7 separate regions of the Homo sapiens genome follow, and all the other regions are linked to region 1. The links come from fine-mapping of genetic effects on gene expression. Tissue or cell type: whole blood. Region 1 holds a variant in brackets; each other region holds the start of a gene. Each region is shown on its reference strand, or each on the opposite one. Region 1 holds the start of ACKR1 (atypical chemokine receptor 1 (Duffy blood group)). Region 2 holds the start of GLT1D1 (glycosyltransferase 1 domain containing 1). Region 3 holds the start of BMX (BMX non-receptor tyrosine kinase). Region 4 holds the start of PFKFB4 (6-phosphofructo-2-kinase/fructose-2,6-biphosphatase 4). Region 5 holds the start of EGR1 (early growth response 1). Region 6 holds the start of FAR2 (fatty acyl-CoA reductase 2). Region 7 holds the start of MMP9 (matrix metallopeptidase 9).

Region 1 (4,075 bases):
GAGCAGGGAGGGGACCGTGTATCTTTATAATCTTTCTAACTCTCCTGTGCTAATCTCAGAGGGGTCACCCTCAATATATCTGGATTATCCGTGTCATTCAGCTGCCTCCTTTCTGGTCCTCTTGCTGCTGCTGGGATGTGTGTATGTGAGGGTCTTCTTCCCATACCCCTTGCACCTGGTGCCTGGTGCCTCAAAAGGTGGTGTGTCCCTTGCCAGGCCACTCTCAAGAATATCTATGTACAGCAACAATATAACTCTACAAGGGAGAGAAGTGTGTTCACTTCCTTTTGCTAAGCCCTTCCTTTCCAGAGAGTGTCTTGGGGGGCATCTGACTGCTTCCCCCCACCCTCTGCCAGGCATTGCTGGAGAATGTTAAGACGGCGATGGAGATGCCATCAACCCCACCCTGCAGAGCATCACCAGACACCACCAGACCAAATTCACTTTCCAGCCCCTTCATGTTGAACCTGAAACTTGAGCTAGTGTCTTGGGAGAAAAGGGGGAAATCTCTACGAGGTACCCATCCTTCTGCACCTTAGGTCTGAGGTGCTTGGCCCCCTAGGAAGCCCTACATGAATGGGACAGAAGGTCCTTAACAACACTGGAGATGAAGCAGCCGATGCTGTTTTGGACAAATGAAACAGCGTCCCCTAACCAGCCCTTTCTATCTCATTGTTCTGACTTGGACACGCCATGGCTCACCGCTCCCAAAGTCCCCACTATGTCTCCCTAGCTGAGGAAATAAAAGCAGAGAGGGGTGATGAAACAGTGACGATCCTGGGGAAACAGCTGAGGAGGGGAGGGAGGGGGAAGAAGCCACTAAAAAAGTGAAATGTGCTTGGGAGAATCGGCCTGCCTGCAGGGTAGATGCCCTTTCTCTCTGCTGGCCAGCTCTGCCCCTCAGTGAGAAACTTTACATATTGCTAAGATGCCTGGCCAATGAAACAGTTCCAGAGACTTTATGTCCCCCAGTAGAAATATGAATAGAAATCACCCTGTGGGCAATGGTCCCATTTTAAAATATGCTGTCCCATTGTCCCCTAGAGCCTACTTTAACTTGTCAGACCATGTATTCCACTTCATATGCAAGAGGCATGCACTGAGCCCATAGGTGGCTAGGCAAACACCCAATAGCTCCCTGAAATGGCTTCATTATGCAGCCTCGACAGCCACCCCAACCCTCCCACTCTCACACTGAAACACCCAGACCTAGAGATAGCTAGACACACCCAGACACCCGCCAAGCCCCTCACATACAGATATGTGCACAATGATACACAGCAAACGTACACAGAGTTCAGTACACACAAAGAGCTCACGCCCACGTGCACACACCCCTCAGTTGGGACAGAGTTGACCACCACCACCTTTCTCCCAAACACATGGCTTTTGAACTGCCTTTCCTTGGATCCAGTTCAAGGGGATGGAGGAGCAGTGAGAGTCAGCCGCCCTTCCACTCCAATTTCCCAGCACCTCCCTTATCTCTGCCTCACAAGTCACCCAGCCCCCCTCTCTTCCTTCCTTGTGCTTGAAGAATCTCTCCTTGCTGGAAAGCCCCCTGTTTTCTCAATCTCCCTTTCCACTTCGGTAAAATCTCTACTTGCTGGAAAGCCCCCTGTTTTCTCAATCTCCCTTTCCACTTCGGTAAAATGCCCACTTTCTGGTCCCCACCTTTTTCCTGAGTGTAGTCCCAACCAGCCAAATCCAACCTCAAAACAGGAAGACCCAAGGCCAGTGACCCCCATAGGCCTGAGGCTTGTGCAGGCAGTGGGCGTGGGGTAAGGCTTCCTGATGCCCCCTGTCCCTGCCCAGAACCTGATGGCCCTCATTAGTCCTTGGCTCTTA[T/C]CTTGGAAGCACAGGCGCTGACAGCCGTCCCAGCCCTTCTGTCTGCGGGCCTGAACCAAACGGTGCCATGGGGAACTGTCTGCACAGGGTGAGTATGGGGCCAGGCCCCAGAGTCCCTTATCCCTATGCCCCTCATTTCCCCTGCTGTTTGCCCCTCAGTCTTTATATCTCTTCCTTTTCCTCCTCATCTTTTCTCCCTTCCTGCTTTTTTCCTCTTCCTTCAAAGTCTTTTTCCTTCTCTCCTTCCTATGCTAGCCTCCTAGCTCCCTCTTGTGTCCCTCCCTTTGCCTTTGAGTCAGTTCCATCCTGGTCTCTTGGTGCCTTTTCCTTCTGACCTTGCACTGCTCCTCCAGCCCCAGCTGCCCTGGCTTCCCCAGGACTGTTCCTGCTCCGGCTCTTCAGGCTCCCTGCTTTGTCCTTTTCCACTGTCCGCACTGCATCTGACTCCTGCAGAGACCTTGTTCTCCCACCCGACCTTCCTCTCTGTCCTCCCCTCCCACCTGCCCCTCAATTCCCAGGAGACTCTTCCGGTGTAACTCTGATGGCCTCCTCTGGGTATGTCCTCCAGGCGGAGCTCTCCCCCTCAACTGAGAACTCAAGTCAGCTGGACTTCGAAGATGTATGGAATTCTTCCTATGGTGTGAATGATTCCTTCCCAGATGGAGACTATGGTGCCAACCTGGAAGCAGCTGCCCCCTGCCACTCCTGTAACCTGCTGGATGACTCTGCACTGCCCTTCTTCATCCTCACCAGTGTCCTGGGTATCCTAGCTAGCAGCACTGTCCTCTTCATGCTTTTCAGACCTCTCTTCCGCTGGCAGCTCTGCCCTGGCTGGCCTGTCCTGGCACAGCTGGCTGTGGGCAGTGCCCTCTTCAGCATTGTGGTGCCCGTCTTGGCCCCAGGGCTAGGTAGCACTCGCAGCTCTGCCCTGTGTAGCCTGGGCTACTGTGTCTGGTATGGCTCAGCCTTTGCCCAGGCTTTGCTGCTAGGGTGCCATGCCTCCCTGGGCCACAGACTGGGTGCAGGCCAGGTCCCAGGCCTCACCCTGGGGCTCACTGTGGGAATTTGGGGAGTGGCTGCCCTACTGACACTGCCTGTCACCCTGGCCAGTGGTGCTTCTGGTGGACTCTGCACCCTGATATACAGCACGGAGCTGAAGGCTTTGCAGGCCACACACACTGTAGCCTGTCTTGCCATCTTTGTCTTGTTGCCATTGGGTTTGTTTGGAGCCAAGGGGCTGAAGAAGGCATTGGGTATGGGGCCAGGCCCCTGGATGAATATCCTGTGGGCCTGGTTTATTTTCTGGTGGCCTCATGGGGTGGTTCTAGGACTGGATTTCCTGGTGAGGTCCAAGCTGTTGCTGTTGTCAACATGTCTGGCCCAGCAGGCTCTGGACCTGCTGCTGAACCTGGCAGAAGCCCTGGCAATTTTGCACTGTGTGGCTACGCCCCTGCTCCTCGCCCTATTCTGCCACCAGGCCACCCGCACCCTCTTGCCCTCTCTGCCCCTCCCTGAAGGATGGTCTTCTCATCTGGACACCCTTGGAAGCAAATCCTAGTTCTCTTCCCACCTGTCAACCTGAATTAAAGTCTACACTGCCTTTGTGAAGCGGGTGGTTTCTTATTTTGTCTGGGGAGAAGAAGGAGAATGGAGAGAGAGACATTTTTATGTCAGACTTTCTTGCCAGTGTCTGCTTCTATAGCTGGCTTGGGAAGAAGGTGAATGATGAATAAATACCCTCAGGGTACACAGATGTTCTCTTGAGGTGTGGGGTCACGGCCATCTCAAGGGAGAAGAGAAGAGGAACCAGAGCATGAGGGGAGTCATTAAACCAAAAAAAACAGAAGGGATGGCTTAGCTGGAAAAAAAGCTGTTCTGGGAAGCAAATGGAATAGGAACTCAAACTGAGAGATAAACAGTGAAGAGTGATGACAAAGCCCAGAGCAATACCACCTCCCCCTGTCCAACCTGCCCAGCCTCTGTCTTCTGTCTCCTCTCTGGCTTTGTTTAGTGATTAGGACAGTGGTGGGGAAGGTGAAAGAAGCATCCCAGGGGATGTTACTCAGTTCAGGGAACATATCAAGGTAATTTAAAAAGCCACTTCCTGGGAGTCATCTCTCCCAGGTTCCTCAGCATGACCTGAATGTGCGTGCGTGTGTGTGTGTGTGTGTGTGTACACATCTGTTTCTCGATCTGTTAGAATCTACCTTTATGTTAGATGTATGCATGT
Region 2 (4,075 bases), not on the chromosome of region 1:
TAGAGACGGGGTTTTGCCATGTTGGCCAGACTGGTCTTGAACTCCTGGCCTCAAGTGATCCACCCACCTCGGCCTCCCAAAGTGCTGGAATTATAGGAGTCAGCCGCCGTGCCCGGGGTCAAAACTCTTTTTCTAAAATGTCGTTAGAAGGGGGTTGTGACAGCTCTGTGCAACTTGTCCCCTTTCCTGTTTGCTTATGTAATTCTGTTGGAAAGTATTAAGTTGTTTAGCAGAATGATAATATTTTCAGATCGCTTTTGTCCTTTAAAAAGGATGTGGCCTGCCTGCCTGGTGCCTGGGAAGCTGAAATACCAGGAAGAAGAGCAAAATCCTGGGTGTTTTTTTGAGAGTGAGAGGAGGACAGGATTTTGATTGTTCTACAATGATATACAACTCTTCCCTACTCCATGCCACACTGAGAGGCAGAGTGGTGGACGTACCTGGGAGAAGCCTGCGGAGCCGAATGTGCCCTCCAGGATGGACTTTTATATCTTGATAAGCCTGGGGGTCACCATGCTGCGTAGGGAGGCCGGAGACCTGCCACTGACGGTGGTTATCCCATGTCATGGCTTTCTTCATTCCCACTTTACCTTTTTGAGGCTGGAAGGTATTTAGGGGATGACAGAAAATCAAGTTTGAAGGTCAATGGAAATATTGGGCACCCACTAGAATGTCCCACATCTGTAAATACATGTGCATCTTTGTAAACACTTAACAGCTGTTTTGGGGAGTGCTTGTTTAAATCCACAGATGGCATTTTGCCAGAGGCCTCCTTCAGTTCCCTATTTCTCTCACTCAAGGTATCCTAGTTTGGAGATCCAGACCAGGTGCAGCCCATGTACCCTGATGAACCCCAGGTTCCCCTCTCCAACATCTTTCTCACCCGACAGGTGCGGCCCTGAAATGGGTTTCTACTGTCTCCTCACACAGTCCCCATGTTCCCCTCCTCGGGTTAGTTTTAGGGTAGTCTAGCCTGGGAAGGAATTTGGGACTGATCATGCCACGTTCCCTGGAATGGGACTAGAAAGGAATCCTGGGCTTCGTGCGGACCAAGGCCCCACTCAGGTTGTCATGGAAAATGAGGCTGAGAGCCCCTCTCTGCAGCACCCTGTGGGACGGAACCCGAGGTCTCTGCTGGTCCCGGTGGGCACAGACCTGCAGCCAACCCGGTGTTCCGTGAAGCCCTGATTTCCCAATGAAGCCCATGGAAGCCATCACTGGTTTCCATGGGAGCGGACCATGGCCACCCCTGCTCCTGTTCCCTGTGGGAAAGGACCAAGGCCGCCCCTGGTCCTGGTCACTGTGGGAAGGGACTGTGGTCACCGCTGGTCCTGGTCCCCTTGGGAGGGACTGTGGTCACCGCTGGTCCTGGTCCCCGTGAGAATGGTCTGTGGTCACCGCTGCCTGTTCCCTGTGGAAGGGAACGTGGTCACTGCTGGTCCTAGTCCTCTTGGGAGGGACTGTGGTCACCGCTGGTCCTGGTCCCCGTGTGAGGGACTGTGGTCACCGATGGTCCTGGTCCCCGTGGAAGGGACTGTGGTCACCGCTGGTCCTGGTCCAGGTGGAAACAGACCGCGGCTACCCTGGTGATGGACCCCACGGGGCACACCCGCGCCACCCCGCACCCAGGGCTCGCGCCGCCCGAGGCCCCCGGTTCCTGTCCCCCTCCCCGCCTGGCGCCGGAACCTGCGAGCTGGGGCGCGGCCTCGGGGAGGGGCGGGCGGGACAGACCCAGCCGCCCCGGCTCCCCCGCCGTCCGCGTCTGCGCCGGCCCCGGGGCCTGGTCGGCGGCGGCGGGGCCGGTCGATGGCCCGGGCGGCGGCGGCGGCATGCGGCTCCTGTTCCTGGCGGTGCTGCGGCCACACACCGGCAACGCGGTCACGGCCCAGCGCGTTCGGTAGGTGCAGGGCGCCGGGGCCTACGAAGCCTGGGCCGGGGGCCGGGGGGCGGGGACGCGGGACCCGGGGACGCGGGGCGCTCAGCCAGGCCCCCTCCAGCCGCGCCGGGGCCGTCCCGAGCCGCGCGCACAAACGGATGGGCCGGTGCCGCCTGCCGGGCGCGCGGGGGTCGGTGCCTTCTGCGTGGCGCGCGTGTCCCCGGGTCTCCGTGCGGCCGGCGCATTGGCCTCGCGCTCTCCGGAGGGGACTGAGCAGGTGAACAGGCCCGGAGCCTGTCGTGGAGGGGCCCGGGAAGGCCTCGCTGCAGAAGCAGGATGGGAGCAGGATCCGCAGGGATGCGCAGCGGGGTCCGCGGAGCTCCCGGCGGGGGCGCGTTTCCAGGCCGGGGACCGCGGTGCCAGCCCTGCCCTCGCGGATCGGGTCTCGGCTGTGTGCCGGCGTCCGGGGTCCTGTCCCCGAAGTCCCTTTCCCACCTCCCCTCTGCCCTGTCTATTCTCGTCTTCCTGGCTGGTTAGCTCCTTCACACTCATCTTTTTCTGCCTTTGTCTTATTTGTTTACTTGTTGGTCTGTGTTCTGGTCGCTGGAACGCAAGCCCGGCGGGGGCCCGGGGAGGGGCCGCCGCGTTAATCCCGCCGCCTCCCACCCGCACAGCGGGCGCTCGGCCTGTATTAGCCGGATAAACATATTCCTTGAGGCGAAGCCTGGGAAGTGCCAGGATTAGAGCCTGCAGCTTAACAGAAGCCGTGTGTGTGTGTGTGTGTGTGTGTGTGTGTGTGTGTGTGTGTGTAAAAGCGGACTTGCTTCATGAAATTTCCCGATTTACTTCCCTTCTGTGGGCCTGTTTCCCCATCAATTTATTTTTTTGAAATGGAGTCTCGCTGTGTCACCCAGGCTGGAGTGCAGTGGCGCAATCTGGGCTCACTGCAACCTCCGCCTCCTGGATTCAAGCATTCTCCTGCCTCAGCCTCCCAAGTAGTTGGGATTACAGGTGTGCACCACCACGCCCGGCTGATTTTTGTATTTTTAATAGAGACAGGGTTTCACCATGTTGGCCAGGTTGGTCTCGAACTCCTGCCCTCAGGTGATCCGCCTGCCTCGGCCTCCCACAGTGCTGGGTTTACAGGTATGAGCCACTGTGCCCGGCCTCCTCATCATTAAAATGAGCAATTGAGACTCCACCAACACTTTCATGTCCCTTTCAGCTAATTTCTCCTAAAGATCATAAGCAGAAATGACCAAGAGAGGATCCATCAGTTTTCTGAAATTTGCTGGAAAATTTACACTCAGGTTTCATGGTGCAGGTTTCTATTAAATAGGTCAGTGATGCTCTGCTTGGGTTTAGCAGTGAGGAGCCCTTTGTGTTCCTGGCTCTGTTGGATGAACCAGCATCCCAGTATGGGAGAGGAATGAAGGAGGTGATTTCACATAGGGATTAGTGCTATTAAGAAAGCAAAACTAGGAGGCTGAGGCAGGAGAATCGCTTGAACCTGGGAGGCAGCTGTTGCAGTGAGCCAATTGATCTGGGATCACGCCACTGCACTCTAGCCTGGGTGACAGAGCCAGACTCCATCTAAAAAAAAAAAAAAAAAAAACAACAACAACAACAAAAAAAACAAAAAACCTAGGGCAGGCTTTCATGGCGGCTCAAGCCTGTAATCCCAGCACTTTGGGAGGCTGAGATGGGAGGATTGCTTGAGCCCAGGAGTTAAAGACCAGCATGGGCAACATGGTGAAACCCTCATCTCTACAAAAAAAAATTTAAAAATTAGCTGATGTGGTGTGTGCATGCCTGTGGTCCTAGCTACTCAGGAGGCTGAGGCAGGAGGATCAGTTGAGCCCAGGAGGTTGAGGCTGCAGCGAAGTGACATTGCACCACTGAACTCCAGCCTGGGTGGCAGATCAAAACTCTAAAAAATAAAACAAAACTGTTAACGGAAAGAGGTCCTGATCCAGAACCCGATAGAGGGTTCTTGGATCTTGCACAAGCAAGAATTCAGGGCGAGTCCTTAAAGTGAAAGCAAGTTTATTAAGAAAGTAAAAAAATAAAAGACTGGCTACTCCATAGACAGAGCAGCCCCAAGGGCTGCTGGTTGCCTTTTTTTTTTTTTTTTTTTTTTTTGAGACAAAGCTTCATTCTTTCGCCCAGGCTGGAGTGCAATGGCGGGGTCTCAGCTCA
Region 3 (4,075 bases), not on the chromosome of region 1:
GACTGGGTAATTTATAAAGGAAAAGAGGTTTAATGGACTCACAGTTCCATATGACTGGGGAGGCCTCACAATCATGGTGGAAGGTGAAAGAGGAACAAAGGCATGTCTTACCTGGTGGCAAGCAAGAGTGCGTGTGCAGGGGAACTGCCCTTTATAAAACCATCAGATCTGGTGAGACTTATTCACTGTCATGAGGACAGCACGGTAAAAACATCCACTCCCGTGATTCAATTACCTCCCACTAGGTCCCTCCCACAACATGTGGGGATTATGGGAACTACAATTCAAGATGAGATTTGGGTGAGGACACAGCCAAACCATATCACCAACTCCTCCTTCCCCTACCCTAAGTTTACTTTTTATTCTAGAATCGAACTTTTGCCATATTACCATATATAAGTTGTGAAGTAAATACAAATCGCCATGTGGAAAAGGAAATTAACTAGCAGAGTGTAGAATTAATTTATTTAGCCAGGTTGTTGTGCCACTCTTGCCCTGCTTCACCCTTAATTTTTTGAATGACTACCTACTATATTCCTAAAGAATGGAGAGCTATTTGGAATCCATCAGTGACTTTAATTTGCTATTAGAATGTAAGTTACACTCTTTTGAATTCTTCTGAAGGACTCCTTTCCCTTCCCAAAATTCTAGTTTCCAAACTGAAATATTAAAAAATATTTCTGCAAGTTATTTTTCCCATACTCTACTGTAATTAAACCACTATTTGTGGTTCCCCCCCCCCCCACACAGACACATAAGCCCCTTGAAGATGTGGGCTGCCTCTCTTCTGTTTGCTCTTGTGTCTCCAACCCCTAACGGAATGCTCAGCACATGGCAGGTTCTCAAATAAGACTTGACTGAACGAATTAATAGAAATGATGCTAATTCCATGTACACTCAAAAGAATACCTCTTTGAAAGCCAGTAGCTTCACTCTCTTCTGCCAACCCAAGACTTCTTCACATCATAGATACTTACAAATAAGTTACAGTAAGCAACAATTTATAAGTAAACACAGTGTGTCAATGCATGCCAAAAGGATGATTACTTTTCTTGGCTATCCATAGCAGGACATAAAATATGTCCTTAGATTTATTACAGATGGCCAGCCGGTATGCACCAGAGAAAATAGTGGAATGGGGGAAGCCAAAAGTTGTGAGTCTGTCATAATGATGTCAAGTGACACACTTTTTCATTGCGATCTAGGTGTACCATACCTTAGCAAAAACAATCTATTTTCCATTTCTGGATTTCTTAATAACTTAAACTATATAAATAAGCTCCTTTTCCATCATATGAACTGTTCTTACATATTCTCTGGCCTTCCTTTGTCCAAATGTTGAGTTGAAGTTTTCATTGCATATTCTCTGTGCACTTTGCATTACCTAATGGTTTCCTGGCTCATGTGAGAGAAGTCAGCGTCAGCAGTCGGGTTTTGCCGAGATATTTTCTTGTCCTTTCCAGCATAGAGCTCTACAAACAAAGGCAGGGTTATCACATGTACCCGAGAGCTGCCTGGGAAAAGTGGGAGCTATAGTTATCAAAATTGGAAACTTTATGAAGTATGCTTTTGTCTCCGTTTTTGTTGCGTTCAATCAGATCAACAAGTGTTGGCTAAGTGTTGAGCGTGGTTTCCTGTGGGATTGTGTAAGGCTCTGTAGGACAATAAACGTGTTGGGGGCACTGAGTAATGTAGCCATTTCTGACCCGGCAGCCAGGAAAATGTGAAACAATTTGCTTCTGGAAACAGGACAGCCGGGGCCGTGTTCCTGCAACAGCAGACCAAGCACCGCGGCGGACCCAGGCAAGCACGGAACAAGCTGAGACGGTGCGTTTAAGCGGCAGGTGGCTACTCAGTGTCGCATACTATGCGGAAAATAGGTTTGGTTCCCGGTGTTGTGGGGCCTGAAGTTACAAACTTTGGGAAGCTCACTTTAAGAAAAATAGTACAACATTTTTAATATGAAATTGCCAGGGCTTTCTCTGGGACTTTAGATGGGACCAGGTAATTTGGAGGCCAACGGCTGAAACTGCTATAATTTCACTGTAAATTCACTCCTTGCTCAAAATCTCAGTTAGGGAAGCTCTCAGGTTGTTTATGTATCACCACCAGTTCTACCTAGCTTTGTGTGTATTCTCTGCTAATTTTCTCCATCCGCTTCTTTAGGTATTGCCTTTCCATAGCCTTTCATATTGGCCTCATAACTGCTTCCAAAGAGACATAGAAATGTTCCTTATACCTTCTTTAACTGTGTTTTTATGATGTTACTTTAGCTACAAATATTTGCTCTTAGGTTCCTGAGGTCTCCCTAAATCAAGTGCTTTGTGTATTTTAGATGGAGATAGACAGGTGGGAGGGAGGTGAACCATGCAGTTGTACTCATATCCATATAATTTTGAAAGATTTTGTGGGCCACAATGATTTCATTGGATTTGAAAAGGAGTGCAACTTTGTGGTCCATGTAAGTGCTTCTCAAGCTTTCCTGTGCACGTGGATCACCTGGGGATCTTGCTAAAATGAAGATTTGGCTGCGCGAGGTCTCGGGTGGGAACTGAGAGTCTGCATGTCTAATGATCGCCCGGATGATGCAAGTGCACGGACCACACTTTGAGTCACATCCAAGTATTTATTTGTAGGAAATATGGTGGCACAAATACACAGTCAATAAGGGTATGGTTCAACCTCATTTTATGGTAACTCGTCTCAGGATGGAAAGTCTGCGACAAACCTACTATGTATGGACTGGTGTTTGTTGACATGGCAATACATGAGGAGGTCTTCCTGCCTCCCATTTTCTCCTATACCCAGGAGCTGGGGACAGAGGGATGAGAAGTAAAATTTTATCATTAAGGATCATTATTATTTCACTGTCTTTAGTTTTTTAACTTTTTATGGTCCTTTTTAAAACTTTGCCTATGGAGTGATCAGAAGGGACATAAGCTTTTAGAATATCTACTAGGGTGTTGGGCATTAGGCTGCCATTTTCTCTTGACTACTTGTAACCCTTCGAAGTGGTTATTGTTTCACTGCCTTTACAGATGGGGAAGCTGAGGTTTAGCTGGGTTAAGTAACATGACAGATTCCATAGAGACAGAGCAGGGATTCGAACCCAGCTCGGTGCTTTCACTTGCACTAACCGGCATCATGAAAGCAGTGTTACATGTTTAATTCAGCATGAGATGCTAGCTCATGGATTTATTACTTTTTGCTTTTCTCCTAAGGAAGTTGCCCAGAGAGAGTGCCCTAAGCAGAGGAGAGGGAGCAGAAAGAAAGAGGTTACTGAAAAGAAGAAAAGACTTAGAAAAGCTCTATGGGGCACTGAAGATTAATCTCACACCTAAAGCAAAACTTAGCTCCAAAAAGACTAGCATTAAGATTCTTGCCTTCTTTGTGAGAAAATGATCTTCCCAAAGTGTCTGGTTTTTATACACTTATTTTGGATCAATTAAGGTATGATGCTCCAAGATGCTGAGAATTTGACTGTCAATGTTAAAAGATTTCTGTCCATATCATGCCAAGATCAACTTTAACTTTCCCTCTCCTGCATAACATCATGTGAAATAAGGATCTGTCAGGTTCTGTGAAGCCAGTATTTGTCTTTGGCCAGCATCCTAAGACTTTTTGAACCACTTTACTTGATCCTCAGTCAAACTTTTTGTTCTTGTTTAAACCTACCATCACATTTTGTTCAGTTATTTAGCACGAAGATAAGCGGGCCTGGCATTTGGACAAATATTTGAAGATCAAGTTTGTCACAGGGCCCTCCAGTTTCCCTTCCAGATCCCACCCCACTTGGAGCGTCTTCCCTTTCTTTCCCACCCTTCCTGCTCTACTGCCCTCCCACCACATGTATTATTTTAACATCTTGACACCTACAAAATCTTTAGCTATATGGCATGTAAAGTAAGAGAGGATAACTAAACCAAGTCAAAGGGTAAGGAATTGCTATCCTTATCTCTGAATTTTAAAAGATAAATCTTTAAAGACACCACCCTGAGCCAGTCAGGGAATACACTTCCTGGTTGAGGGAACTATCCAATGGCCACTTAACTAGATAACCCTGTCTCCCTTGGTA
Region 4 (4,075 bases), not on the chromosome of region 1:
CGGGGGTTGGCTTGGAGCTGATGCATCAATCCCTGACTCAGACGTAGTGAGAAGCAAAGAAAGAATGGTAGTGATGACAGAATACCCTGCCTCCGCTTATTGAGGACCTACTCCTTAAAGGCTCACAGACTTGGCTAGGCATGGCAGCTCATGCCTGTAATCCCAACACTTTGGGAGGCCAAGGGGGGCAGATCATTAGAGATAACGAATTCAAGACGAGCCTGGCCAACATGGTGAAACTCCATCCTACTAAAAATACAAAATTAGCCGGCCATGGTGGCGCATACCTGTAATCCCAGCAACTTGGAAGGCTGAGGCAGGAGAATTGCTTGAACCCAGGAGGTAGAGGTTGCAGTGAGCTGAGATAGGACCACTGCACTACAACCTGGGCAACAAGAGTGAAACTCCGTCTCAAAAAAAAAAAAAAAAAAAAAGTCCAGGTCCTCACTCCTTTCCCCTATGTAGTAATAGCAGCCACCCCCCTAAGTCAGGACCACACAGCCCTAATAACACAGACTGGCTCAGCCTCCCCGCCTCCAGAAGAGTCTCAAAGGAGGGGTGGCCATAGCCCTCAGGACTGAGTGTGCATTATAGACAGCACAGCCCCACCAGGACCTACATCACAATCAAAGCCATGAGTTACCACGACTTGGTCTGGTCAGAAACATGGCCTTCCCCTGCCAGGACTCACAGTGTGGCCAGAAATACACACACCCTTCCCCCAGGACTCATATCATGATCAAAGCCATGGCTCCAGGCTGCTGCAGCAGGATGAGCACAAAGAACTCTCCCCTTGCTTATCATACATAAGCAGAGGCAGGATCACAGGGAGACCCAGGCATGTCACTCAATCTCCTGATCTCCATTTCACTGTCTGTTAAACTAGATGTTCTCTGAGGTGCTGGACAAGCTGCAAATTCATTACAATGTTTCAGTTACTCCTAAAACAAATCTTTCTTTTCCTGGTAATAAAAAAGTTGCAGGCCAGGACCCACGCCTGTAATCTCAACACTTCGGAAGGCCGAGGCCAGAGGATCCACTTGAAGCCATGAGTTGGAGACCAGCCCAGACAACATAGCAAGACCCTGTCTCTACAAAAAAAAAGAAAAAAGAAAAAAAAAAGCTGGGTGTGGTGGCGCACCTATAATCCCAGCTAATCGGGAGGTTGAGGTGGGAGGATTGCTTGAGCCCAGAAGGTCGTGGCTGCAGTGAACTATGATCGCGCCACTGCACTTGCTCCAGCTTGGGCCACTGAGCGAGACTCATCTCTTAAAAAAAAAAAAAACTGCCAGCTCATTTAAGGACAGGCAGAAACTCAAGGAAGCGGTTTAAACACCTGGGACCCTAGGAGAGGTGAGCCCCTTAACAATTCCATGAATTTCAGCATTCTCCTAGCTGTTTCACTCTCCAGTTTTACTGTACACCCATGACCCCAGGTGGATACTTACATGTCCCGGGACACAGACACAGGCCCACACGGCATACTTTTCTGTCTCTATCCTGAGCACATCTCTGCTGAAGTTCCTGCCCAAGCTCAGCTTTAAGGCCAAGAGGCACCCTTCCTCCTGTTGGAAAACTAGCCCACCTTTGAAAGTTCTGGGCTCAGAGAGGCCAAGTAATTCACCTAGGGCCACACAGCTCAGTTCCAGTCCAACAACCCGGCCCACACTCCTTGGCCAGGAGAGAGGGAAGGGCCTGGGGTGCCCACAGGGTCCTCCCCAGACTGGGGGCGATGGGGATTGGAGAGGGAAGCGAGGGGGCCAGAGCCCTCCCCGAGGTGATGGTGGCCAGACCTAGCCACCGCCAAGCCGATATGCCCCCACACACCTGTCCCCGCCCCCTGCTCTGCCACACCTGTCTCTGGCCCACCACTGTCACGACCGCCTCACCTGTCCCCAGCAGCCTCCCCAGTCACGGCAACCTCACCTGTCCCCGGTTCCCCATCTGTCTCCCGCCCCTTCTCCATGCGAGACCCCCGCCCAGGCCGCCCTACCCACCCATCCCGGTGCACCTCCCACCTCCTCCCAGAGGACCCCGCCTCACCACCGCGCTGGCAAGCGTGCAGAGCGGGCCGCCCATTGCTGTATGGCATCCAGATCTTCTTCAGGGGGTTCTGTGTCAATTCCCGTGGGGACGCCATCCCGGGGCCGGGATGAGTCGGACTGCGCCGCTTCCAACCCAGCAGCCGGGCCACCTCGGGCCACCCGAGGTCCCGCCCCTTGGGCCCCGCCCCTCCTCAAGCCGCGACAGCCCATGTCTATCTTCCCGCAGGTCCCGCCCCAGAGTGAGTAGGCTCCGCCCCAGCTGAAAGGGGCCCGGCCTCCGACCACGCATGCCCAACTCACCTACCCGCCCGTTTTGGAACAAGTGGGCCCAGTTCTTCAGGCCAGGATCGAGAATGCGCATGCTCAACTCCGGATTGTACTGGTCCCGCCCCAGTTCAAGGCCCGGATTGTGCAGGCCCGCCCCGGATGCGCAAACTCAGCTCTCCCAACCTGCCCGCGCTGATTTGCATAGGCCCCACCTACGGGCTCCGCCCTGGCGCTGCATCCCTGAGCAGCGGCACGCGTGAATTCTGCTACCTCCTTGCTAGGGAGCCCAGGGCCCCCAGGAGGGAGGGGTTTTCATGCAGTGGGACGAGGCCTACGTGACCCGCACGGCCAGGTTGGTCAGAGCCGACAGGGGCCAGTAGGCCTGCAGTCCCAGCCGTCAACTCCGCTGCGCCCTCCTGCCCCTCCTCGGGGTCCCCCTTGACTGCTCCGAGCCCCGGGACTCTTCCGCCGTCCATAGGAGCATGCTCAACCACGCTGGAAAAGCTCTTTTACCTCATGGATAGAGACTCAAAACACATTTCAATATTGTTCCTCTTTCTTTGCTTTGGCTGCTGGGAGCAAATGCGTGGGACTTTTTTTTTTTGAGACGGAGTTTCGCTCCTGTTGCCCAGGCTGGAGTGCAATGGCGCTATCTTGGCTCACTGCAACCTCCGCCTCCCGGGTTCAAGGGATGCTCCTGCCTCGGGTTCCCAAGTAGCTGGGATTACAGGCGCCCACCACCACGCCCTGCTAATTTTTGTATTTTTAGTAGAGGCGGGATTTCACCACGTTGGCCGGGCTGGTCTCGAACTCCTGACCTCAGGTGATACGCCCTCCTCAGCCTTCCAAAGTGCTGGGATTACAGGCGTGAGCCACCGCGCCCGGCCGTGCGTGGCACTTAGTAACCAAGTACTTTGGGTACTCACTAAGCCCTGGGAGTATCTTAATCGTCTTTCCAGAATTTCATTTTTTACAATTTTTTTTTGATTTTTAGTATTTTGGTTTTTTTAACTAAAGTTTTACATATTTTTTGAAAATAATATGTTAATAACATTTTCTCTTCAGGAAAATGGGATGTGCACATTGTCTATCTTACAGTATTACAGTATAAATTAAGTATGTCAATCTCTAAGAAATTCATTTTAAAATACGTTATGGTTGCCTTTTACTATATTTGTATCTCCCTCTTGTCTTTGAAAATGCACTGGGGACAAGGAACAAGGGAGAGATCCAGAAGTTCCTAAACCCCTGGCTCACTTTCTTGTTTGGCCCCCACCGGACTCCTGCAGTTTCCCGCCTCCTCGGGATCCCCAGCCCCGCCTCTCCAAGCTTTGTACACTCTCTGCCCCAGCCCCCACCAACACGGCTTCAACCTGAGCCACACTGCCCTCTAGCGATGTCATCCACAACACCCCTGGCAGGTGCCCTGCATCCTCAGGTTCTCTCTGCCCAGTGTGTACCCAGCCAGGAGCCAGGTGTTGAGGGCATGGGACTGGCAACAAGACTGGCCTCGTGGGCTATAGGTGTAGCACCCCCTCCCATGCCCTCCCTGCCACAGCCCTGCCTTGGATCAGTCCAAGTCCACCCAGCTCTTTAAAGCTTGGCAAGGACCCTTAAGATGACTGACACAGATGTCTTGCCCACTTCATAGGAACTGAAGATTCCAAAGGTCCACATGCTGGAAGCCCATCTGGACCCTCCCCCAAACCAGCTCTAGCTGCTTGCCCTGGGAACACCCTGCCCCAGGCAGAGTCAACAACTTC
Region 5 (4,000 bases), not on the chromosome of region 1:
TTCTGCTTTCTTTTTAAATCCAGAAAAAACAGCACCTCCTCTGGATTCAGAGCTAGAGCAGGAGGAGCCTTCCCTTCCCGGAATCCCTGTTCCCTTTGGGGTGAGCAACTGACTGCGTCGTGGGGGCGGGGAGGGCTTCCCTGTTCGCGTTCGGCCCCAGGGAGACCTGCGGGAATCGTTCTCCCTCGCCACCACCCACCCCCTGCTTCCTTCTCCCCCTCGCCTTGGCCAGGCTCGGGGTGAGGAGTGTTATCCCGGAGTCTGGGCGCCTCGGCAGTGACGGCTCCCCAGGGACTGCAGGGGGAGCCCGGGCTGCAGCGCCTGCTCAGTTCGTGCTCACTGCGTCGAAGGCTCCCCCGGCCTGGCTCCGCGCCCAGCGCCGCATCCGGGAGGAGGAGCGAGGAGGCGGCGGAAGAGCCCGCGCGGCCGGAGTCCGGGGCTGGGAGTGGAGAGGGAACCTCCAGGGGGCAGCACCGAGCCGCCAAGCCGGTCCTCTCTTCGCGCCCAGCCCGGGGTCCCCAGACAGCCCATAGGGAAGCCCCTCTTTCGGATTCCCGCAGTGTGGGCCGGCCCTCCACCTGGACTGGATAAAGGGGGGAAAGTGACCCCTCACCACAAGGACCATTATCTCCTGGTGAGAACAAGAATCAGGCCTCTCTTGGGGCAATCAGCTTCCCCACTTCGGTCCCCCAAAGGTGGGCTCTTTGCCGGCGGGGACTAGGGAACAGCCTTTCGGTTCCGGGGGAGCACAGGGGACCCCAGGCACCAGCAGCCCCATCCCACCGACAGGTGGCAGAGGCAAGGCAGCTCACTGCTATACAGTGTCCCAAGAACCAAGTGGCCGTGACTTCCTATCCTCAATTTCCCAGCGACACCCGGAAAGACACCGTGCCATAGATCGAGGCCCGGGGTCAAGGCCCCGCCTCTCCTGGGCGGCCCCTGCCCAGGCGGGCCCAGCCGCTCCTCCCCCGCACTCCCGGTTCGCTCTCACGGTCCCTGAGGTGGGCGGGCGGGCCCTGGATGACAGCGATAGAACCCCGGCCCGACTCGCCCTCGCCCCCGCTCTGGGTCTGGGCTTCCCCAGCCTAGTTCACGCCTAGGAGCCGCCTGAGCAGCCGCGCGCCCAGCGCCACACGCCACGAGCCCTCCCCGCCTGGGCGTCCCCGGATCCCGCGAGCGCTCGGGCTCCCGGCTTGGAACCAGGGAGGAGGGAGGGAGCGAGGGAGCAACCAGCTGCGACCCGGAAATGCCATATAAGGAGCAGGAAGGATCCCCCGCCGGAACAACCCTTATTTGGGCAGCACCTTATTTGGAGTGGCCCGATATGGCCCGGCCGCTTCCGGCTCTGGGAGGAGGGAAGAAGGCGGAGGGAGGGGCAACGCGGGAACTCCGGAGCTGCGCGGGTCCCGGAGGCCCCGGCGGCGGCTAGAGCTCTAGGCTTCCCCGAAGCCTGGGCGCCTGGGATGCGGGCGCGGGCGCGGGCCCTAGGGTGCAGGATGGAGGTGCCGGGCGCTGTCGGATGGGGGGCTTCACGTCACTCCGGGTCCTCCCGGCCGGTCCTGCCATATTAGGGCTTCCTGCTTCCCATATATGGCCATGTACGTCACGACGGAGGCGGACCCGTGCCGTTCCAGACCCTTCAAATAGAGGCGGATCCGGGGAGTCGCGAGAGATCCCAGCGCGCAGAACTTGGGGAGCCGCCGCCGCCATCCGCCGCCGCAGCCAGCTTCCGCCGCCGCAGGACCGGCCCCTGCCCCAGCCTCCGCAGCCGCGGCGCGTCCACGCCCGCCCGCGCCCAGGGCGAGTCGGGGTCGCCGCCTGCACGCTTCTCAGTGTTCCCCGCGCCCCGCATGTAACCCGGCCAGGCCCCCGCAACTGTGTCCCCTGCAGCTCCAGCCCCGGGCTGCACCCCCCCGCCCCGACACCAGCTCTCCAGCCTGCTCGTCCAGGATGGCCGCGGCCAAGGCCGAGATGCAGCTGATGTCCCCGCTGCAGATCTCTGACCCGTTCGGATCCTTTCCTCACTCGCCCACCATGGACAACTACCCTAAGCTGGAGGAGATGATGCTGCTGAGCAACGGGGCTCCCCAGTTCCTCGGCGCCGCCGGGGCCCCAGAGGGCAGCGGCAGCAACAGCAGCAGCAGCAGCAGCGGGGGCGGTGGAGGCGGCGGGGGCGGCAGCAACAGCAGCAGCAGCAGCAGCACCTTCAACCCTCAGGCGGACACGGGCGAGCAGCCCTACGAGCACCTGACCGCAGGTAAGCAGTGGCCTACGCCGAGGGGGAACCCTTTCGCCACCATCCTGGCGTCCTGTCCTTCACCGCAGGAGTGCTCCTGGATCTTAGAATGAGAGCCGGGTTTCCCTTTCATTCCTCGCATCCCCAGAGTCATGTGTTAGAGGGATGCCAAGGAACCCCACACAGCCCACCCCCTGCCCTCATCCCTAGCGGAGCGCAGAGGACCGAGCTTTTGTTTTGGATGGAGAGCTCTGGAGCTGCGTGGGTGGGTGGAGGGGGAGGGCTTGTTTTGATGAGCGGGGCTGCGCCCCCCACCTCCAGTAAGACTTGCCTTGCCTTGCTTGCCGCCTGTCCCCAAGGAAGGACCGTGATCCTTGGCCGTGGATGTCCCGGCAGCCCGGGTTTGGGGGCGCGCACTAGCCGCGGCCATGGGGGTGCTGGCGGGAATCCCTCGCCCGCACAGCCGCCGCTGCGGAGCGCTGCGAGCTGCAGTGGAGGGGGATTCTCCGTATTTGCGTCAGCTGTTGTTGAAATGGGCTCTGCCACTGGTGCGGGTCCAGGAACATTGCAATGTGCTGCTATCAATTATTAACTACCTCGGGAGTCAATGGTAGCCGGCCCGGTCTCTTGCCTGGCAGCTCGGGTCGTCCTCGTCCTCCAGTGATTGCTTTCCAGTAACCAGGCCTCCCGCTTCTCTCTCTCCTGCCAGAGTCTTTTCCTGACATCTCTCTGAACAACGAGAAGGTGCTGGTGGAGACCAGTTACCCCAGCCAAACCACTCGACTGCCCCCCATCACCTATACTGGCCGCTTTTCCCTGGAGCCTGCACCCAACAGTGGCAACACCTTGTGGCCCGAGCCCCTCTTCAGCTTGGTCAGTGGCCTAGTGAGCATGACCAACCCACCGGCCTCCTCGTCCTCAGCACCATCTCCAGCGGCCTCCTCCGCCTCCGCCTCCCAGAGCCCACCCCTGAGCTGCGCAGTGCCATCCAACGACAGCAGTCCCATTTACTCAGCGGCACCCACCTTCCCCACGCCGAACACTGACATTTTCCCTGAGCCACAAAGCCAGGCCTTCCCGGGCTCGGCAGGGACAGCGCTCCAGTACCCGCCTCCTGCCTACCCTGCCGCCAAGGGTGGCTTCCAGGTTCCCATGATCCCCGACTACCTGTTTCCACAGCAGCAGGGGGATCTGGGCCTGGGCACCCCAGACCAGAAGCCCTTCCAGGGCCTGGAGAGCCGCACCCAGCAGCCTTCGCTAACCCCTCTGTCTACTATTAAGGCCTTTGCCACTCAGTCGGGCTCCCAGGACCTGAAGGCCCTCAATACCAGCTACCAGTCCCAGCTCATCAAACCCAGCCGCATGCGCAAGTACCCCAACCGGCCCAGCAAGACGCCCCCCCACGAACGCCCTTACGCTTGCCCAGTGGAGTCCTGTGATCGCCGCTTCTCCCGCTCCGACGAGCTCACCCGCCACATCCGCATCCACACAGGCCAGAAGCCCTTCCAGTGCCGCATCTGCATGCGCAACTTCAGCCGCAGCGACCACCTCACCACCCACATCCGCACCCACACAGGCGAAAAGCCCTTCGCCTGCGACATCTGTGGAAGAAAGTTTGCCAGGAGCGATGAACGCAAGAGGCATACCAAGATCCACTTGCGGCAGAAGGACAAGAAAGCAGACAAAAGTGTTGTGGCCTCTTCGGCCACCTCCTCTCTCTCTTCCTACCCGTCCCCGGTTGCTACCTCTTACCCGTCCCCGGTT
Region 6 (4,075 bases), not on the chromosome of region 1:
AGTTAAATATAGAGTCTTTTTTTCAAATAAGGTCACATTCACAGATTCTGGGGATTTGCCTCAGGACATATCTTTTGGGGCCACTATTCAACCCACTACATTGCCTCTTTTTGTTATTATCTGTTATGGGTGGAACTGCGTTCTTCTCCGCCCCTGCCAGTTTCACATATTGAAGTCCTAACTCCCAGTACTCTAGAATGTGACCTTATTGGGAAATAGGGTTGTTGCAAATTTAATTAGTAAAGTTAAAATGAGGCCATTAAGGTGAGCTCTAAATCATATATGACTGGTATCTTTATAAAGGATAAATTTTGACACAGACATGAACATAGGGAGAATGCCATATGAAGATTATAGGAGACAGGGGTCATGTGTCTACAAGCCAACAAGAAACCACTGGAAGTAGGTAAGCATCATGGAAAATTCTCTCTCAAAGCCCTCATAAGGAACCAACCCTGCAGACATCTTGATCTTGGTCTTCTAGCCTCCAGAATTATGAAATAATACATTTCTATAGTTTAATCCACCCAGTTTATGTGCATCCTTATGACAGCCTTAGCAAACTAATACATTCTACATATATGAATAGCGTTTTAAATGGTGATAATCAAATTGTGGTTTTGTAATCTATAATTAATGTTGTATTTTATCTATGAACATCCCACTGAAAGTATGCTTTTAATTTCCTACTTTATAAACAACTCGGTAATAAATATGCAACTATGTACATGCGGCATTTCTCTTTTATGGATTATCTCCTTTGAATACATTGTAAGACATGGGAATCTAGGTCCAGAACAAGAAAAAATTTCGTTACTGAACACCTTGGGAATGTGTTGCTAAATTGCTTTCCAACAAAAGCGTGATTACAATTTACCTTCCATCTGCTATCTGTTAAGTGATTTCTATACGTTTTCACCAGCATTTGACATTATCATTTGAAGTGCTGTCACACACATTTTGAAGATACATTCAAATTTATTCTTGAGGAGGGGAGGGGTAACGAAAAATACTATAAATTTGGTTGTAACTTTTTTTCTGTCTCTTGCATTCAGGCGGTCACCAGAGGAAATTAGTCAGTGCCTTTAGGCTACACTTAGCTTAACACATTTCATTAAAGAGCCCAGTAGTAGAGAATTCAAGATGGGTGTTATTATTTTAATTTCATGAAATCACTCCTTAATTCTAACTTTCAAAAGTCAAATTTTATTTCTTTAATTGCATGTGGATTGTTATAATGAGGAGAATCAGAACAGCTTATAGGACAATATTTCTTTTCTATTTTTCTTAACACACCATATTTATTTGGAAATTTACCTCCTACATTGTCCAGGGAATTAGGATGGGCGTTGGCCGTTTTTCAGCACTTCCTGGTTGAGGCCAAGGGCTCCACTCACGTGCCTGTCCATCCCTCTACAAGGCTTCCCTGGCAGCTTGTTTTTCCGTTTAAAATTTAACAATGACCAAATCCCAAAAAAGCTACCAGGCTAAGAAATGAAACATCTTTTTTTCTTTTAAGTCCGGAGAAGTGCTGCTGAGCACAGCTGGCTCACTGCTGTTTCTGCGGCCCCCATCTCTGATCCTTTCTAGTCTCCTACCCACCCCCACCCCACCATAGGCAGGCAGAGCCGGATTTCTGCCCTTCAAACCCCGAGTGTGAGGAAGCCTCACCTGAAGTCCTCGCATCACCCTCCACCCTCACGCCCTTGGGTTTTAAAAAGCCACTGCGTTCGTGGGTCACTGCAGGGCGCCTCCGCAATGTCTTTAGCAGATACAAGAGCATCCCTCCCACGGGATGTGCAGTGTAGTCAAGCTGAGTAAACTGGGATTTTTGGCTGCCTTTTCTGCTAGGGTGGGTGGGGAAAGGTATGTCCCCCAAGCGTTCAGTTCAGACTAGAACCTTTGAATCTCTCTCCTGTCTCGGTCTCTCCCTCCACCCCCCTACCCCGCCACCTTTCACGGTGTGGGAGTTCTCCTTTCCCACACCAGAGAGGGGCGCCTTTCTAGCTTCCTTGTCCCCTCGCCCACTGATTAAAAAATGGAGAAAAAAACCAACCCCAAAACCCAAAACAAAACAAAACAAAAGCCCCAAACAAACAAACAAACCAAACCCACCGAAACCAAAACCAACTCCCCTCCCCCAAACCACACAAATGCGGGAGTCATAGCCAGTGGATCCGCTGGTGCTGAACGAATGGAAGCGCGGGGCGGGCCTGCGCGCGCGGCCGCCCTGCCCACGATGCTGTCGCCCCCGCGACCTGTAGGGCCTTCGCTGGCCCCTCACCCTCCTCCCGCCCCGGGCTGAGGCTGCCGCCGGTTTCGCGCCCAGTGCCGAGGCAGCGGCGGAGCCGGGGAAGGTCGGAGGGAGGGTGGTTTCCTCCCGCCCCACACCCAGTCTCCGAGCCGGATATATAGAGTGTCACGTTTGGGAGCCGAAAGACTGGAGCCGTTTCCTTGTGGCTGGAGCGCTTCCCGTAGCCTCGGGGAAGGAGCAGGATTTAGAGGACCACTAGTTGGACCCCATCCTCGTGCTGGAGGAACAGGTATTCCAGGGTCCCCAGCCCTGGCGCTCGCAGAGCCCACGCGCTCCAAAAGCAGAGACCGGACTGGGGGTGGCCCAGGAGGGAGGGCTCGGCTGGGTTCGCAGGGCGGGGCGGTTCCCGGCGGGACCTCGAGGAGGGTGGGTGTGAGGCCGGGTGGGAGGAGAGAAGCATTTGCGGAGGCTCTGCCCCCTGAAGCTGCCCCCGGCTGCACCCCAATCGTCACCGGCCGTTTACGCGCGGTTGGCGTCGGCGGAGCCCGCCAAGGTGGGGCGCGCGGGGGTTGCAAAGGGCAGAAAGCCGGGAAGGACCCAGCAAGGTTAATGTGGGGGGCCGCGCCTTGGGGACTGGGGACCCGGGAAGAGAGGCGCGGGGCCGAGTCCCACCCAGGCCTCCTGGGCCCTTGGGGCTATTCCTGGAGAGAGCGCGAAAATGCCGGGGCCACGTGTGAAACGGCAGCGGTCCTAGGTCCCCTCCCGGTGCCTGGGACCGCCAGGGCGCCCAGTCCTGGTCCCCGGAGCAGGTCCTCGCCAGCCCCCAGCCCCACCCCAGGCTGCGCACGTCCCTACCCTCCCACCTGGGCCTCGCCGGGGTCGTGGCTGACGCGCGCTGGGGCGACTGGTGAGGCCAGGGCGGGCTTTGCCCCTGTAGGAAGTTTTAGACATCTTCCTGCGGCCTGGGCATCCTGGGGGTGTGCAGGGGAGCAGGTGCCAGCAGACTCCCAACTGGAGTAGATGGCTTGCAGGAAGGCTGCTCAACACTCCTAGCAAGTAGAATTACCCGCGGGGCAGTCTCAGTCTATTAAAACAATTCATGCCCAATCGTATCCTACAAACCAGAGGAAGGCGTCTCACCTGCCAGCGGTGGCACCATTTCTTCCACGGTTGAGTTATGTGGTGTGAGCAACCAAGGTTATCGCTGGATCTGCAAGAGTTTGGCCACTCGTTGAATCACGTAAAGTGCCCCCATTATGTGATGAGCAAGGACAGAGTAGGGTCAGAAAAGTGACCAGGGAATTCAGGTAGATCGTGCTTTTCTGTTTGCTAGGTTGAGAGAAATTTGACACTGGGCAAATGGAAATTTGAGAATTACCCCGTGGTTTCAATTACCCATCTCTGTATATTCCCATTTATAAGAGCTGGAGATTTGACTGACAGGTGTAGTTAGTCCAAAATTTAGAAAGGGGGGCAAGGGACTAAATAAAAACTTAAGGCAGCCACCTAAACTGCAAGAGCAGGCATTTCCGCAGAAGGGATATTTGTGTGTGAGACTTCTAGGAGATGGGCATGAGGTTTTTACCAGGCCGACGCGTGTGTCAATATTTCATCGGTAGTATTTCTCAGGATCCACGTCTTTACAGTACTCTTTTCCTAATTCTGAGGGCTGCTTCTGCCCCTGCTGTATTAACAAATTCCTCACTTACTCCTATTTCTAACATTGGGCTATAATTATCTATAAAAGAGATGTAAATCACCATGAGTTGGTAAATCATACAGCTATTAGAGAAATTAAAGTAAATGAAAATATGCTTTCCT
Region 7 (4,074 bases), not on the chromosome of region 1:
GGGAGGCAGATGTTGCAGTGAGCCGAGATCACGCCACTGCACTCCAGCCTGGGTGACAGAGTGATACTACACCCCCCAAAAATAAAATAAAATAAATAAATACAACTTTTTGAGTTGTTAGCAGGTTTTTCCCAAATAGGGCTTTGAAGAAGGTGAATATAGACCCTGCCCGATGCCGGCTGGCTAGGAAGAAAGGAGTGAGGGAGGCTGCTGGTGTGGGAGGCTTGGGAGGGAGGCTTGGCATAAGTGTGATAATTGGGGCTGGAGATTTGGCTGCATGGAGCAGGGCTGGAGAACTGAAAGGGCTCCTATAGATTATTTTCCCCCATATCCTGCCCCAATTTGCAGTTGAAGAATCCTAAGCTGACAAAGGGGAAGGCATTTACTCCAGGTTACACTGCAGCTTAGAGCCCAATAACCTGGTTTGGTGATTCCAAGTTAGAATCATGGTCTTTTGGCAGGGTCTCGCTCTGTTGCCCAGGCTGGAGTGCAGTGACATAATCATGGCTCACTGTATCCTTGACCTTCTTTCTGGGCTCAAGCAATCCTCCCACCTCGGCCTCCCAAAGTGCTAAGATTACAGGAATGAGCCACCATACCTGGCCCTGAATCTTGGGTCTTGGCCTTAGTAATTAAAACCAATCACCACCATCCGTTGCGGACTTACAACCTACAGTGTTCTAAACATTTTATATGTTTGATCTCATTTAATCCTCACATCAATTTAGGGACAAAGAGCCCCCCACCCCCCGTTTTTTTTTTTACAGCTGAGGAAACACTTCAAAGTGGTAAGACATTTGCCCGAGGTCCTGAAGGAAGAGAGTAAAGCCATGTCTGCTGTTTTCTAGAGGCTGCTACTGTCCCCTTTACTGCCCTGAAGATTCAGCCTGCGGAAGACAGGGGGTTGCCCCAGTGGAATTCCCCAGCCTTGCCTAGCAGAGCCCATTCCTTCCGCCCCCAGATGAAGCAGGGAGAGGAAGCTGAGTCAAAGAAGGCTGTCAGGGAGGGAAAAAGAGGACAGAGCCTGGAGTGTGGGGAGGGGTTTGGGGAGGATATCTGACCTGGGAGGGGGTGTTGCAAAAGGCCAAGGATGGGCCAGGGGGATCATTAGTTTCAGAAAGAAGTCTCAGGGAGTCTTCCATCACTTTCCCTTGGCTGACCACTGGAGGCTTTCAGACCAAGGGATGGGGGATCCCTCCAGCTTCATCCCCCTCCCTCCCTTTCATACAGTTCCCACAAGCTCTGCAGTTTGCAAAACCCTACCCCTCCCCTGAGGGCCTGCGGTTTCCTGCGGGTCTGGGGTCTTGCCTGACTTGGCAGTGGAGACTGCGGGCAGTGGAGAGAGGAGGAGGTGGTGTAAGCCCTTTCTCATGCTGGTGCTGCCACACACACACACACACACACACACACACACACACACACACACACACCCTGACCCCTGAGTCAGCACTTGCCTGTCAAGGAGGGGTGGGGTCACAGGAGCGCCTCCTTAAAGCCCCCACAACAGCAGCTGCAGTCAGACACCTCTGCCCTCACCATGAGCCTCTGGCAGCCCCTGGTCCTGGTGCTCCTGGTGCTGGGCTGCTGCTTTGCTGCCCCCAGACAGCGCCAGTCCACCCTTGTGCTCTTCCCTGGAGACCTGAGAACCAATCTCACCGACAGGCAGCTGGCAGAGGTGGGCAAACACCTAGTCTAGAGTTGGGGAGGGCTGTCCGTGAGGGTGTTGAGTGTCCCAGAGAGGATGCAGGGCCTCAGAGGAGATGCTTTAGGGGTGTGTTGGTGGTGATGGGCGTATCTGAAGAACAGAGGTGTCCAGGGTTAGGCAGTGGGGGGTCTTGTGGAGGCTTTGAGCAGTGATGGCCAGAAATGGGCAATGGGGCTTTCCTAGGTGGGAAATGGGAAATGGTTTGGGGTGGGGGAGGCATTGGAGGGTTCTGGGGTAAGCATAGGCTGGGAGTGAACAGGGGCAAACCTTATGCAGCTGTGGGGTAGAAATGGGCTAGAGGCATCCAGGGGTGAGAAGGAGCTGAGGATGTCTAAGGAGGGGAGATCCCTGGGTGGTCAGAAAGCACTGGTGTCTGGAAAGCATTTAATGCTTTATTAAATGTTAGTCCCTGCTGGGCATGACGGCTCACACTTGTAATCCCAGCACTTTGGGAGGCTGAGGTGGTAGGATCGCTGAAGCTCAGGAGTTTGAGCCCAGCCTAGGCAACATAGTAAGATCCTGTCTCTACAAAAAAATTAAAGAAATAGCCAGGCACAGTGATGTGCACCTGTAGTTCCAGCTATGCAGAAGGCTGAGATGGGAGGATCGCTTGAGTCCAGGAGGTCCAGGCTGCAGTGGGCTGATACCGTCTCTCCGAAAAAGAAAAAGAAAAAAGACTCCCTCCATGAGTGTCTGGAGGGAGTCCTTTGGCCCCAGCTGGGCAGAGAAAGGGGTCAGAGATCTGGCATGTGTGTGTCCCTTCATCCACAGGAATACCTGTACCGCTATGGTTACACTCGGGTGGCAGAGATGCGTGGAGAGTCGAAATCTCTGGGGCCTGCGCTGCTGCTTCTCCAGAAGCAACTGTCCCTGCCCGAGACCGGTGAGCTGGATAGCGCCACGCTGAAGGCCATGCGAACCCCACGGTGCGGGGTCCCAGACCTGGGCAGATTCCAAACCTTTGAGGGCGACCTCAAGTGGCACCACCACAACATCACCTATTGGTGAGCCGGGGCCGTGGGGGCAGCGGGGTGGGGCGGGGAGGCCAGGTCTGGCTCTTGGGCCAGCGGTGAACATGTCCTGTCTTGGACGCGTCCCTGGGTTTCACTATTTAATGTGTGGCCCCTGGGGAGTGTCCCCACCTCTGAGCCTCTGTTTCTCCTTCAGGGAAATGGCTCTTGCAATCCAAGTCCTCCTGCCAGGGCCATTGTGAGGGTCTAAGTAGACAAAAAAAAAAAAAAAAAAAACAGTCTGGAAGCAATTTATAGATGAGAGCGTGGACGGCAGAGAGCATTGTGTATGTTGAAGTCTCTGCGATATGGGGTGTCCCTGCTGCCCCGCTCCAGCCTTTCACTTCTGACCTCCTTCCTCTGGCTCTTACGCTACAGGATCCAAAACTACTCGGAAGACTTGCCGCGGGCGGTGATTGACGACGCCTTTGCCCGCGCCTTCGCACTGTGGAGCGCGGTGACGCCGCTCACCTTCACTCGCGTGTACAGCCGGGACGCAGACATCGTCATCCAGTTTGGTGTCGCGGGTGAGAACGTGAGGAGGGAAAATCCAAGAGACCTGGGCGGGGTCAGGGAAGGGAGGACCACGGAGAGCGTGGAGGCAGCAGTGGCCCCGGCTTCCTCTTGCCTGCCCGCGCTGCCCTGGCTTATACGGCCCCTCCTGCCAGACAGTGCACAGGGCCAGGGCGCCAGGCTGGGAGAGCTTCGCGCAGGCGGGATTTCAGCCCGCACTTATTTCGGAGCCCTTGCCTTGGGCAGCGCACAATCTGCGCAGCAGTACTCGGCTAACCCTCTTCCTCTCGACCTGTTTCTTCAGAGCACGGAGACGGGTATCCCTTCGACGGGAAGGACGGGCTCCTGGCACACGCCTTTCCTCCTGGCCCCGGCATTCAGGGAGACGCCCATTTCGACGATGACGAGTTGTGGTCCCTGGGCAAGGGCGTCGGTGAGATTCTGAGTCCTCCTGGCCCCTGATTCCCTTCATTCTCTCCCACTCATCACCCGCCGCCCTAACTCCGGTCCCCCCTCCTCCTGCAGTGGTTCCAACTCGGTTTGGAAACGCAGATGGCGCGGCCTGCCACTTCCCCTTCATCTTCGAGGGCCGCTCCTACTCTGCCTGCACCACCGACGGTCGCTCCGACGGCTTGCCCTGGTGCAGTACCACGGCCAACTACGACACCGACGACCGGTTTGGCTTCTGCCCCAGCGAGAGTGAGTGAGGGGGCTCGCCGAGGGCTGGGGGCGCCCACCACCCTTGATGGTCCTGGGTTCTAATTCCAGCTCTGCCACTAGTGCTGTGTGGCCTGCAATTCACCCTCCCGCACTCTGGGCCCAATTTTCTCATCTGAGAAATGATGA

The links. PIP is the estimated chance that this variant, and not a neighbour inherited with it, causes the effect.
Region 2: GLT1D1 starts here. The variant in region 1 is fine-mapped to the expression of GLT1D1 in whole blood (TOPMed, PIP above 0.99).
Region 3: BMX starts here. The variant in region 1 is fine-mapped to the expression of BMX in whole blood (TOPMed, PIP above 0.99).
Region 4: it holds the start of PFKFB4, and the variant in region 1 is fine-mapped to the expression of PFKFB4 in whole blood (TOPMed, PIP above 0.99).
Region 5: EGR1 starts here. The variant in region 1 is fine-mapped to the expression of EGR1 in whole blood (TOPMed, PIP above 0.99).
Region 6: it holds the start of FAR2, and the variant in region 1 is fine-mapped to the expression of FAR2 in whole blood (TOPMed, PIP above 0.99).
Region 7: MMP9 starts here. The variant in region 1 is fine-mapped to the expression of MMP9 in whole blood (TOPMed, PIP above 0.99).

Annotation. Positions count from the first base shown.
Region 1 is chr1:159,203,048-159,207,122 of GRCh38, forward strand. It overlaps CADM3 (cell adhesion molecule 3), which reads left to right. Exons shown (of 9, transcript NM_001127173.3): 9 at 1-266. ACKR1 (atypical chemokine receptor 1 (Duffy blood group)) reads left to right here and starts at 1,828. Exons shown (of 2, transcript NM_002036.4): 1 at 1,828-1,933; 2 at 2,414-3,453. The coding sequence starts at 1,913. The coding sequence ends at 3,403. The variant T/C (reference allele first, on the strand shown) is at 1,846.
Region 2 is chr12:128,851,753-128,855,827 of GRCh38, forward strand. GLT1D1 (glycosyltransferase 1 domain containing 1) reads left to right here and starts at 1,726. Exons shown (of 12, transcript NM_001366886.1): 1 at 1,726-1,897. The coding sequence starts at 1,830. It overlaps LOC100128276 (a long non-coding RNA gene), which reads right to left and starts at 1,343. Exons shown (of 3, transcript NR_148996.1): 1 at 1,324-1,343; 2 at 441-600. RefSeq lists silencers at 1,705-1,804, 1,995-2,194 and an enhancer at 2,056-2,707.
Region 3 is chrX:15,499,114-15,503,188 of GRCh38, forward strand. BMX (BMX non-receptor tyrosine kinase) reads left to right here and starts at 1,694. Exons shown (of 19, transcript NM_203281.3): 1 at 1,694-1,827.
Region 4 is chr3:48,554,638-48,558,712 of GRCh38, forward strand. PFKFB4 (6-phosphofructo-2-kinase/fructose-2,6-biphosphatase 4) reads right to left here and starts at 2,166. Exons shown (of 14, transcript NM_004567.4): 1 at 2,044-2,166. The coding sequence starts at 2,140. RefSeq lists enhancers at 2,569-2,658, 2,789-2,878.
Region 5 is chr5:138,463,812-138,467,811 of GRCh38, forward strand. EGR1 (early growth response 1) reads left to right here and starts at 1,668. Exons shown (of 2, transcript NM_001964.3): 1 at 1,668-2,257; 2 at 2,946-4,000. The coding sequence starts at 1,951. RefSeq lists silencers at 272-541, 862-1,261, 1,272-1,621, 1,712-1,921 and enhancers at 454-1,653, 726-1,566, 1,567-2,406.
Region 6 is chr12:29,146,865-29,150,939 of GRCh38, forward strand. It overlaps FAR2 (fatty acyl-CoA reductase 2), which reads left to right and starts at 2,414. Exons shown (of 12, transcript NM_001271783.2): 1 at 2,414-2,543. RefSeq lists silencers at 2,262-2,321, 2,632-2,781.
Region 7 is chr20:46,007,390-46,011,463 of GRCh38, forward strand. It overlaps MMP9 (matrix metallopeptidase 9), which reads left to right and starts at 1,519. Exons shown (of 13, transcript NM_004994.3): 1 at 1,519-1,675; 2 at 2,477-2,709; 3 at 3,094-3,242; 4 at 3,533-3,661; 5 at 3,754-3,927. The coding sequence starts at 1,538.